3 separate regions of the Homo sapiens genome follow, and all the other regions are linked to region 3. The links come from fine-mapping of genetic effects on gene expression. A gene starts in region 3. Each other region holds a variant in brackets. All regions are shown on one strand. Distances are from middle to middle. Region 1 holds the start of CKAP2L (cytoskeleton associated protein 2 like). Region 2 overlaps LOC102724955 (a long non-coding RNA gene). Region 3 holds the start of NT5DC4 (5'-nucleotidase domain containing 4).

Region 1 (2,758 bases), 44 kb after region 3:
GACCCGGGCTTCGGCCAGACCCCGCCTCCTGGCACAGAGGACCACGCCCGGCTCTGCCTGGAGCCAAATGTGGATCAAAACAGCGCGCAGCTTCCCACTGCTGGTGAAAACCCGAGCAAGGGGCCTCAGTTTCTTTATCCGGAACGTGGTGACAATGACATCTCTTTGCAAGGCTGCTGCAGGGCTTTCTGGAAATACGCCCGTGAGGTATCTGGGCCTGCGCACAGCCTCCCCCGCCCAGGACCCAGACGTCTACCTGGGGGTCCCGTCTGCGCTCCCGGGATGGAAAACGCCCAGGGGAAACTTAGGCAGGCGAGCGGACGGGCACCTCCCGCGGGACGAACTCACTCGGTGGCCTCCTACTTCCCCGGCCGTGTTCCAACGCCTGAGAATAACGGGAACAGCGGTCGTACTCACCGACAGCGGCAGCAGCGGTAGGCCCGGGCCCCACCATGACTCTTCAGTGACAGTTTTTCTTCAAACGCCGCGCCTGTAGCCAGGACCGGCGTGCCGCGCGTCCACGCGTCCTCATTGGCTCCTGCGGGTTTGAAACTCGCTAGTCGTCAGCACGGGAGGGCGGGACAACAGGCAATAGGCTCTTTGCGGTTGGCTCTGGCCTTGAGAACCCGACCTTGGGGCCCTTTGATTGGAAGAACGTGCAGCGCACCTCGGCATTGAGGGCGGCTTCCTCGGGGCGCGGCGCCGCCCGCCTCTGAGTGCGCCTGTGAGTGCGCCTCCGAGTGGGCGTGGGACCCTCCGTGGGGGCCTCAGCCGGGCTGGTGGTTGGGGGGCGGTTACGCTGAATCCAGCTGGGGTTGGCGCGCCGGGAGTCCCTGGGCGGAGAGACAGGGCGGTCCTCCCAGGATGCTGGGGCCGCTACCTGATTCTGTCCTTTCAAAGTCTCAGACTCACAGGAGCTGTGAAAAAATAATATTATAAAGAGGACATATGGGTCTTATGCATCTAAAGGCTCCTAGTTCTTAGTACTGCAGGGTGGCTCGTTTAATTGTGGTAAAATATGCATAACATCACATATACCATTTTAACCATTTTAAAGTGTTAAATTTTTCAAAAATGTGCAGTTTAGTGGTATTAAGTACCCTCACATTGTGGCACAGCCACCACTACTGTCCTTTCCAGAACTTTTTCATCTTCCCAAATGAAACCCTGTACCCGTCACTAACTCCGCACTCCTCCCTCCCCCAGCCCCAGGCAATCACCATTCTAGTTTCTGTCTCTATGGATTTGACAACTGTAGGTGCCAT[A/G]TAAGTAGAATCATGCAGTATTTGTTCTGTGACTGGCTTGTTTCACTTAGCATAAAGTATTCAAGGTTCATCCATGTGTAGCATGTGTCAGAATTTCCTTTCCTTTTAAGGGGGAATAGCATTTCGTTGTGTGGAGATGCCACATTTTGCTTCTTGGTCCATCCCTCTCCGGACACTTGAGTTGCTTCCACTTTTTGGCTATTGTGAATAATAATATGAACATGAATGCACAAATAACTCTTTGAGACTCTCCTTTTCATTCTTTTGGGTATATACCACGAAGTGGTATTGTTGGATCAAACGGCAATTCTATTTTTAATTTTTTGAGAAACTGCCTTACTCCTCTCACGGTGATCTCTTGTTCAAGGTATATTTTCGATTTCACCTGATCAGCTGACTATAAGGCCATAAGGCTAACGGAGAAACGCAGGCCTAGTTTCTCCTAGTTACTAGGAGATCGCAGGCCTCGTTGTCCTGAATCCCTAGACACACTTCATTCCCCTTGTTTTAATCCTAAATTTTTTTTCTTTTGAAGTTTGTCCTGTTTCATCTATTCTCCAGTTTCTTAAAGAGGTCTGGAAAATGCTTTTGGCTCCTTGTGTATGAAGGTTCCTCTTCCATGGATGCTGGAGAAGTCGTGTGTGGAGGGGCAGTCATATCTGGGCACCTGTTGGCCAGGTTCAGCTTACCAGTTGGGTACTCAGCAGGGCATGAAGCCACTGCAGCAGCCCTTCTCTTTAGCCGTAAATAGGGAGTTTGGAAGAGAGCCAGGGTTTCTGGATTTATGCATTTTGATATTTTCAATAGTGTATTAAATGTTTAAAATAGGAAAACTGATCATTATTTTTGTTAATGACTGAGAAAGGGACTCCTTCACCAACAGTTTCAGAAAAGTGAAGGCGGTTTTGTTTTGGTCTTTGTAGAATCTAGGTGGTTGAATGCATGTCAGTTGTAGAAGTCACCTTGCCTGATATCCCACGCAGTGCTGGAGTATTCCACAGACCCCATGTAGGTACTGCACCTTTGCAGGTATACTGCTGGTGTTGGTGAGCTGCCTTACCTGTCCTGTTATTGGAGACCCCTGCTTATTAGGAAACTTAAAATGAACTCAAATGAGCTTCCTTGCTTACTGGTCCTAGTCCTTTGGAGCAACATAGGCCAGTTCTGCCTCGTTTTTTTCCATCCTTTGGGTATTTGACGGTCTATTTTGTAGGACACAAAATGTGGGAAAATAGCTAGGCAGGTTTAAAAATTCTCAACTCTACCAAGCATGGTGGCTTATGTCTGTAATCAATCCCAGCACTTTGTGAAGCTGAGGCAAGAGGATTGCTTGAGCCTAGGAGTTTGAGACCAGACTGGGCAACATAGCAAGACCTCGTTTCTTAAAAAAAAAAAAAAAATTACAAAAATTAACCAGGCATGGTGGCACACACCTGTAGTCCCTTCTACTCAGGAGGCTGAGGTGGGAGGATCACTTGAGCCCAAAAGTTGAA
Region 2 (2,758 bases), 41 kb before region 3:
GGATCGCTTGAGGTCAGGAGTTCGAGAACAGCCTGGCCAATATGGTGAAACCCCGTCTCTAATAAAAATACAAAAATTCACTGGGTGTGGTGGCAGGTGCCTGTAATCCCAGCTACTTGGGAGGCTGAACCCAAGAGGCGGAGGTAGCAGTGAGCCGAGATCACGCCATTGCTCTCCAACTTGGGTGACAGAGCCAGACTCTGTCTCAAAAAAAGAAAAAAAAAAAAGGAAAGGAAAGAAAAGAATAACTATGACAATTAAAAAAAATTTTTTTAAAGAGATGAGGTCTCACTGTGTTGTCCAGGCTGGAGTGCAGTAGTGCCATCACAGCTTACTGCAGACTCCAACTCCTGGGCTCAAGCGATCCTCCCATTTCAGCCTCCCAAGTAGCTGAGGCTACAGGTGTGCCACGGTGCCTGGCTAACTGTGACAATTTAAGAATGGCCAGTTTCTTTGACACTCTTCCCATAGAGGTGGGATCTATGTCCCCGCTCCTTAAAACTGGATGGGCTCTAACTGCTGTGAGTCATAGAATTTGGTAGAAGCGACTGCCAGTTTCCAGGTTCAGGTCTTAGGAGTCTGGCAGCTTCCACTTCCTGTGTCTTGGAACACTTGCCCTGGGGAAAAGTAGCTTCCATAAAAGAAGCCTGACTACCCTGAGACTGCTGTGTTGTGAGGTAGTCCAAGCAGATTCATGGAGAGGAATCAAGATCTCTTTCCCCTTCTCTCTCCAGCCAACATCCTTGGCAGAGCTGTGAGCCAACAGCCAGCCCCAGCCTGCCAGCCGTGTGAGCAAGCAGTCTTGGAAGGTGATTCTACAGCCCCAGCTGAAACACTCCAACTGATGCCATGTGAGCCGAGAAGAGCAGCCAAACTGAGCCCTTCTCAAATCCCTGATCCTCCAAATGTAGGCAAAATAAATTGCTGGTTTTAAGCCACTAAGTTTTGATATAGATTGTTATGTAATAATAGATATCAGAGCTCTAGCTAAGGCAGGTGCTGAAGGGAAGATGTTTTTATCATTCATAGATATCACAAAATATGTATATTTAATGCATTTCAAAATTTTAGTTCTAACCAATACAATTCTTTGGAGTTTACTTTTCCCGTTATAGAAATGGTACATTATAAATCACCTACCTGCGAGTCTCAATCTACTCTTGTTATTTTTCTATGTTCCGTTCTAGTATTTGCTTTAAGTGCATATTTAATTTGTAATTAAATATGTAATTATGAAATAGATATAATTTAGATTTCTCGTGTCATGTCATTTTTAGATGGGATTGGCCAATGGAAATCAGACAGTAATTACAGTGGTATGAAATTAGTCATAGCTTGCCTTAATTAATTTTTTGTTTATTTTTTTTTTTGAGGCAGAGTTTCGCTCTTGTCACC[T/C]GGGCTGTAGTGCAGTGGCATGATCTTGGCTCACTGCAACCTCCGCCTCCCAGGTTCAAGCAGTTCTCCTGCCTCAGACTCCCGAGTAGCTGTGATTACAGGAGTGTACCACCAAGCCTGGCTACTTTTTGCATTTTTAGTAGAGATAGGGTTTCACCATGTTGGCCAGGCTGGTCTCAAACTCCTGACCTCAGGTGATCCCCCTCCTCAGCCTCCCAAAGTGCTGGGATTACAGGCATGAGCCACCTCACCTGGCCTGCTTTAATTTAACACTCATTTGCTTTCACTTATTTACTCTTTGCAATAACTCAATCTGGAAGTTTGATCTTACAGATGAGAGGACTAAGGCATTGTAGAGGTAAAGAAGGCAATCCAAGGTCACACGGCCAGAACATTAGGGAATGTACCAGTGCAGTGGTGGGGAAAGTGAAAGCAAAGCGGAGACAGTTTACCAGGTGCCCACACACAGAGAAAACTTCCAACCAGTAAGGTGGGAGCATTTCCAAATCTAAGACAAATGAGACTACTAGATGCCAATTGGATTGCTCCTCCTAAGGAGAATCTGAGTGCATGGAAAATTATTTACGGACCATTGAAACCATTTTGGTGTGTGCTTTGGCAATAGCTCCTCCTGAAAAGCATGCAGCCGGCAGAAGATCTGGATACCACAGAGACTGAGATTCTACATGTGTTCAGAGACCGGAGTCCCTACCACAGAACCTGTGACCTGTGCTTCTAGGGTCTTCAAAGTCAATAAAAATCAGCAGGTGATTGAAGGAGAAGGAAAATAAAGCACAAGGGAGGTGATTTGGGGCTTTGTAGAAATGCCTCTGTTACCCATTTCTGGGGTTTTATTGCTGGAGCCTTGTACTCTTGGTGAGATCTCCTAAGGTGAAGTGTTGGATTTAAAACAGTCTGATAGGCCAGGCGCGGCGGCTCACACCTGTAATCCCAGCACTTTGGGAGGCCAAGGTGGGCGGCTCACTTGAAGTCAGAAGTTTGAGACCAGGCCAACATGGTAAAACCCCGTCTCCACTGAAAATAGAACAATTAGCTGGGCATGGTGGTGGGAGCTTGTAATCCCAGCTACTCGGGAGGCTAGGCAGGAGAATTGCTTGAACCCGGGAGGCAGAGGTTGCAGTGAGCCGAGACTGCACCACTGCACTCCAGCCTGAGCAAAACTCTGTCTCAAAAAATAAAATAAAATAAATAAACAAATAAATAAAACAGTCTGATAGGCCAGCCTGGTGGCACAGGCCTATAGTCCCAGTTACTTGGGAAGTGAGGAGGGAGGACTACTTGAGCCCAGGAGTTTGAGGCCGCAGTGAGCCGAGATCACACCACTGCACTCCAGCCTGGGTGA
Region 3 (2,758 bases):
TCCTTTTCTTCATTTCCTTTCCTTTCCCTTCCTTCCTTCCTTCCCTCCCTCCCTCCCTCCCTCCCTCCTTTCTTTCTCTTTCTTTCTTTCCTTTCTTTCTTTCTTTTTCTTTCTTTCTTTCTTTCTCTTTCTTTCTTTCTTTCTTTCTTTCTTTCTTTCTTTCTTTCTTTCTTTCTTTCTTTCTTTCTTTTTCTTTTCTTTTCTTTTCTTTTCCCTTCCTTCCTTCCTTCCTTCCTTCTTTCTTCCTTTTTCTTTCCCTTTTTATTGACAGGATCTCACTCTGTTGCCCAGCCTGGAGTGCAGCAATCTCGGCTCATTGCAACCTCCAACCCCTGGGTTCAAGCAATTCTCCTGCCTCAGCCTCCCGAGAAGCTGCCAAGAGGCTAATTTTTTTTTTCTCCTGCCTCAGGCTCCCAAGAGGGCAATTTTTTTTTTCTTCGTATTTTTAGTAGAGACAGGGTTTCACCATCTTGGCCAGGCTGGTCTTGATCTCCTGACCACGTATCCACCCACCTTGGCCTCCCAAAGTGCTGGGATTACAGGCGTGAGCCACTGTGCCCAGCCTTGTCTTTCTTTTTAAAAGAGGGCCTGGCACTTCAGTTAAGTCTTTCTGGATGATCCAGGTCACCGCTCCAAATGGAAGTCACATGCTTGGTTGTGGAGCCAGTGGTATGGGCCCTCAGGGAGTATTTAGAACTCTACACTAAATGGCCCCAGTGGTTCTGCTTTTTGACACTTCCTTTTGTACTTTCTGCCACCCCCCCATTCTGAGATCCCAGTTATCTTCCCAATTCTTATAGCCCTTGGCATGCTTCTAGCAATGTCTTCTCTAAATGGCCTTGAGCTGGGAAATTTGATAACCAAATGTGTCAGAATTGTGCATAAAGCAAGAGTACTGAGTTATTTCTTTTATCATGAGTACAGTACGGAGCCTCCTGACTTTGTATCCCGTCATTTGCCTCATTCTGGGTTCTCCGCTACTCTCCAGGCCGCTGAGGTCCATGGATGCATAAGCCCTAGGAATGAGGAGGGTGCAGTGGACATGAATTGCTCTTCCTAGATCCTTGCTGCTTTTGCTCTAGAGAAAAGGATGGGATACCAGAGCCTGTCCTGGCTGACTCCTCCCTCAAAGGGGCTCGGGGGAGATGGGAGCACAGGGTGGGGCCAGCTGGGTCAGTGGTGCCTGAAGCTTCTGAGGGAGAGGAGAGTGGCTGGGCCCCACTGATAGTGTGCAGGAGGCTGAGGAAGGGACACTTGCCTCCTCCTCACTCTGGGTGACGATGGCCAGTGTAGACTGGAGAGAGCCGGAGGGACTGGTCTCCCCTCAAGGCCCGAAGCAGGACTGGCACCAGCGGTGAGATGGGCACCTGGGGTGGGGGCCAGGGGTCTCAGCCCATAAACACCCCACACGCCACAGCAGCACACAGGGGCTCCTTTAAATACACAGCTATGGGGACTCCCAAAATGCAGACGTACACTTGCACTCACAAGGGACGCACTTCCATAGCTGTAACAACCCATCAGGGAACTGACCACACACACTCCGGCGGGAGGTCCTCTTCACTTCCTTCCCTCCACGAAGATCTCTCCCCTTCACCACGGACACAGTGACATGTGCTATCCAATTGTGACAAACACATCATCTCTGAATTTGGACACTGGGGTCCCATTTCAGAAGGTGACAACCCTCACACCAACAACTGCACCTACTTTCTTACAGGGTTGGATGCCTATAACATGCCTGCATGGTGGGACAGCAAGCGGCTGATTGCCCGCACACACTCAGATGCACGCTTGCACACATGCTCACACATGCTTACATGCACACTCACACTTGCCTTCAGACACACATGGGTCCAGGCAGGGCCCTGGCTTGGCCTGACCTGCTTCCCCTGTGCTTTCTGCAGCTGCAGGGGGTGCTCTGCCCTCCTCTGCGGGGTTTCCACCCCCTCTGTCCTTGGGCCTTGGATTCTGGGGGGCTGGTGGACTGATGCCAACATCCTCCTCTCTCTCCCCAGGATTTTTGTCAACCGCAGCCTGGCGCTGGGGAAGATTCGTTGCTTTGGCTTCGACATGGACTACACTCTGGCTGGTAGAGAGGGCTGGAACACAGCGTATTGGGAGCTGGAGGGAGCAGGGGTGGGCAGCTGGGCACCAAAGCCCTGATTCTGTCCGGGCCTCTGCAGCCTACAAGTCCCCAGCTTATGAGGCCCTGACCTTCGAGCTGCTGCTGGAGCGCCTGGTGTGCATTGGGTACCCGCATGAGATCCTGCGCTACACCTACGACCCCACCTTCCCCACCAGGTGTGTGGCTCAGGACAGGTGGGAGGCCACCCGGCCTTGGTACCCCCACCCACAGTGCCCCCCGACCCCCCGTCTGCAGGCGGCTGGTGTTCGATGAACTCTATGGGAACCTGCTGAAGGTGGACGCCCACGGGAATGTGCTGCTGGGTGCCTATGGCTTCACCTTCCTCTCGGAGTAAGGGACAAAGGTGCCGGGAGAGTGGCAGGCCAGGAGGGGAGGACTGCTCACCTTGGGGGAGGACAGAGGGAGGGAGGGAGGAAGGACGCAGGCCCACGGTGGAGGCTCAGCACAGAAGGGATGCGTGGTGGTTGGAAGGGATGGCCAGAGCCTGGACAGGCCTCCAGGAGGCACTGGGGAGGGGTCATTGGCTGCACCCAGCCTACCCCTCCTCAGGGCAGAGATCTGGAGCTTCTACCCCAGCAAGTTCATTCAGAGGGACGACCTGCAGTGTTT

Evidence for each region. PIP is the estimated chance that this variant, and not a neighbour inherited with it, causes the effect.
Region 1: its variant is fine-mapped to the expression of NT5DC4 in whole blood (TOPMed, PIP above 0.99).
Region 2: its variant is fine-mapped to the expression of NT5DC4 in whole blood (TOPMed, PIP above 0.99).

The regions. Positions count from the first base shown.
Region 1 is chr2:112,764,145-112,766,902 of GRCh38, forward strand. It overlaps CKAP2L (cytoskeleton associated protein 2 like), which reads right to left and starts at 465. Exons shown (of 9, transcript NM_152515.5): 1 at 418-465. The coding sequence starts at 454. RefSeq lists an enhancer at 95-234 and a silencer at 685-844. The variant A/G (reference allele first, on the strand shown) is at 1,266.
Region 2 is chr2:112,678,988-112,681,745 of GRCh38, forward strand. LOC102724955 (a long non-coding RNA gene) reads left to right here. Exons shown (of 4, transcript XR_001739643.2): 3 at 735-907; 4 at 2,021-2,149. Among named protein-coding and RNA genes, the nearest start is that of SLC20A1, 34 kb to the left of the region's middle. The variant T/C (reference allele first, on the strand shown) is at 1,396.
Region 3 is chr2:112,719,800-112,722,557 of GRCh38, forward strand. It overlaps NT5DC4 (5'-nucleotidase domain containing 4), which reads left to right and starts at 1,221. Exons shown (of 17, transcript NM_001393655.1): 1 at 1,221-1,354; 2 at 2,019-2,092; 3 at 2,187-2,304; 4 at 2,384-2,479; 5 at 2,684-2,758. The coding sequence starts at 1,281.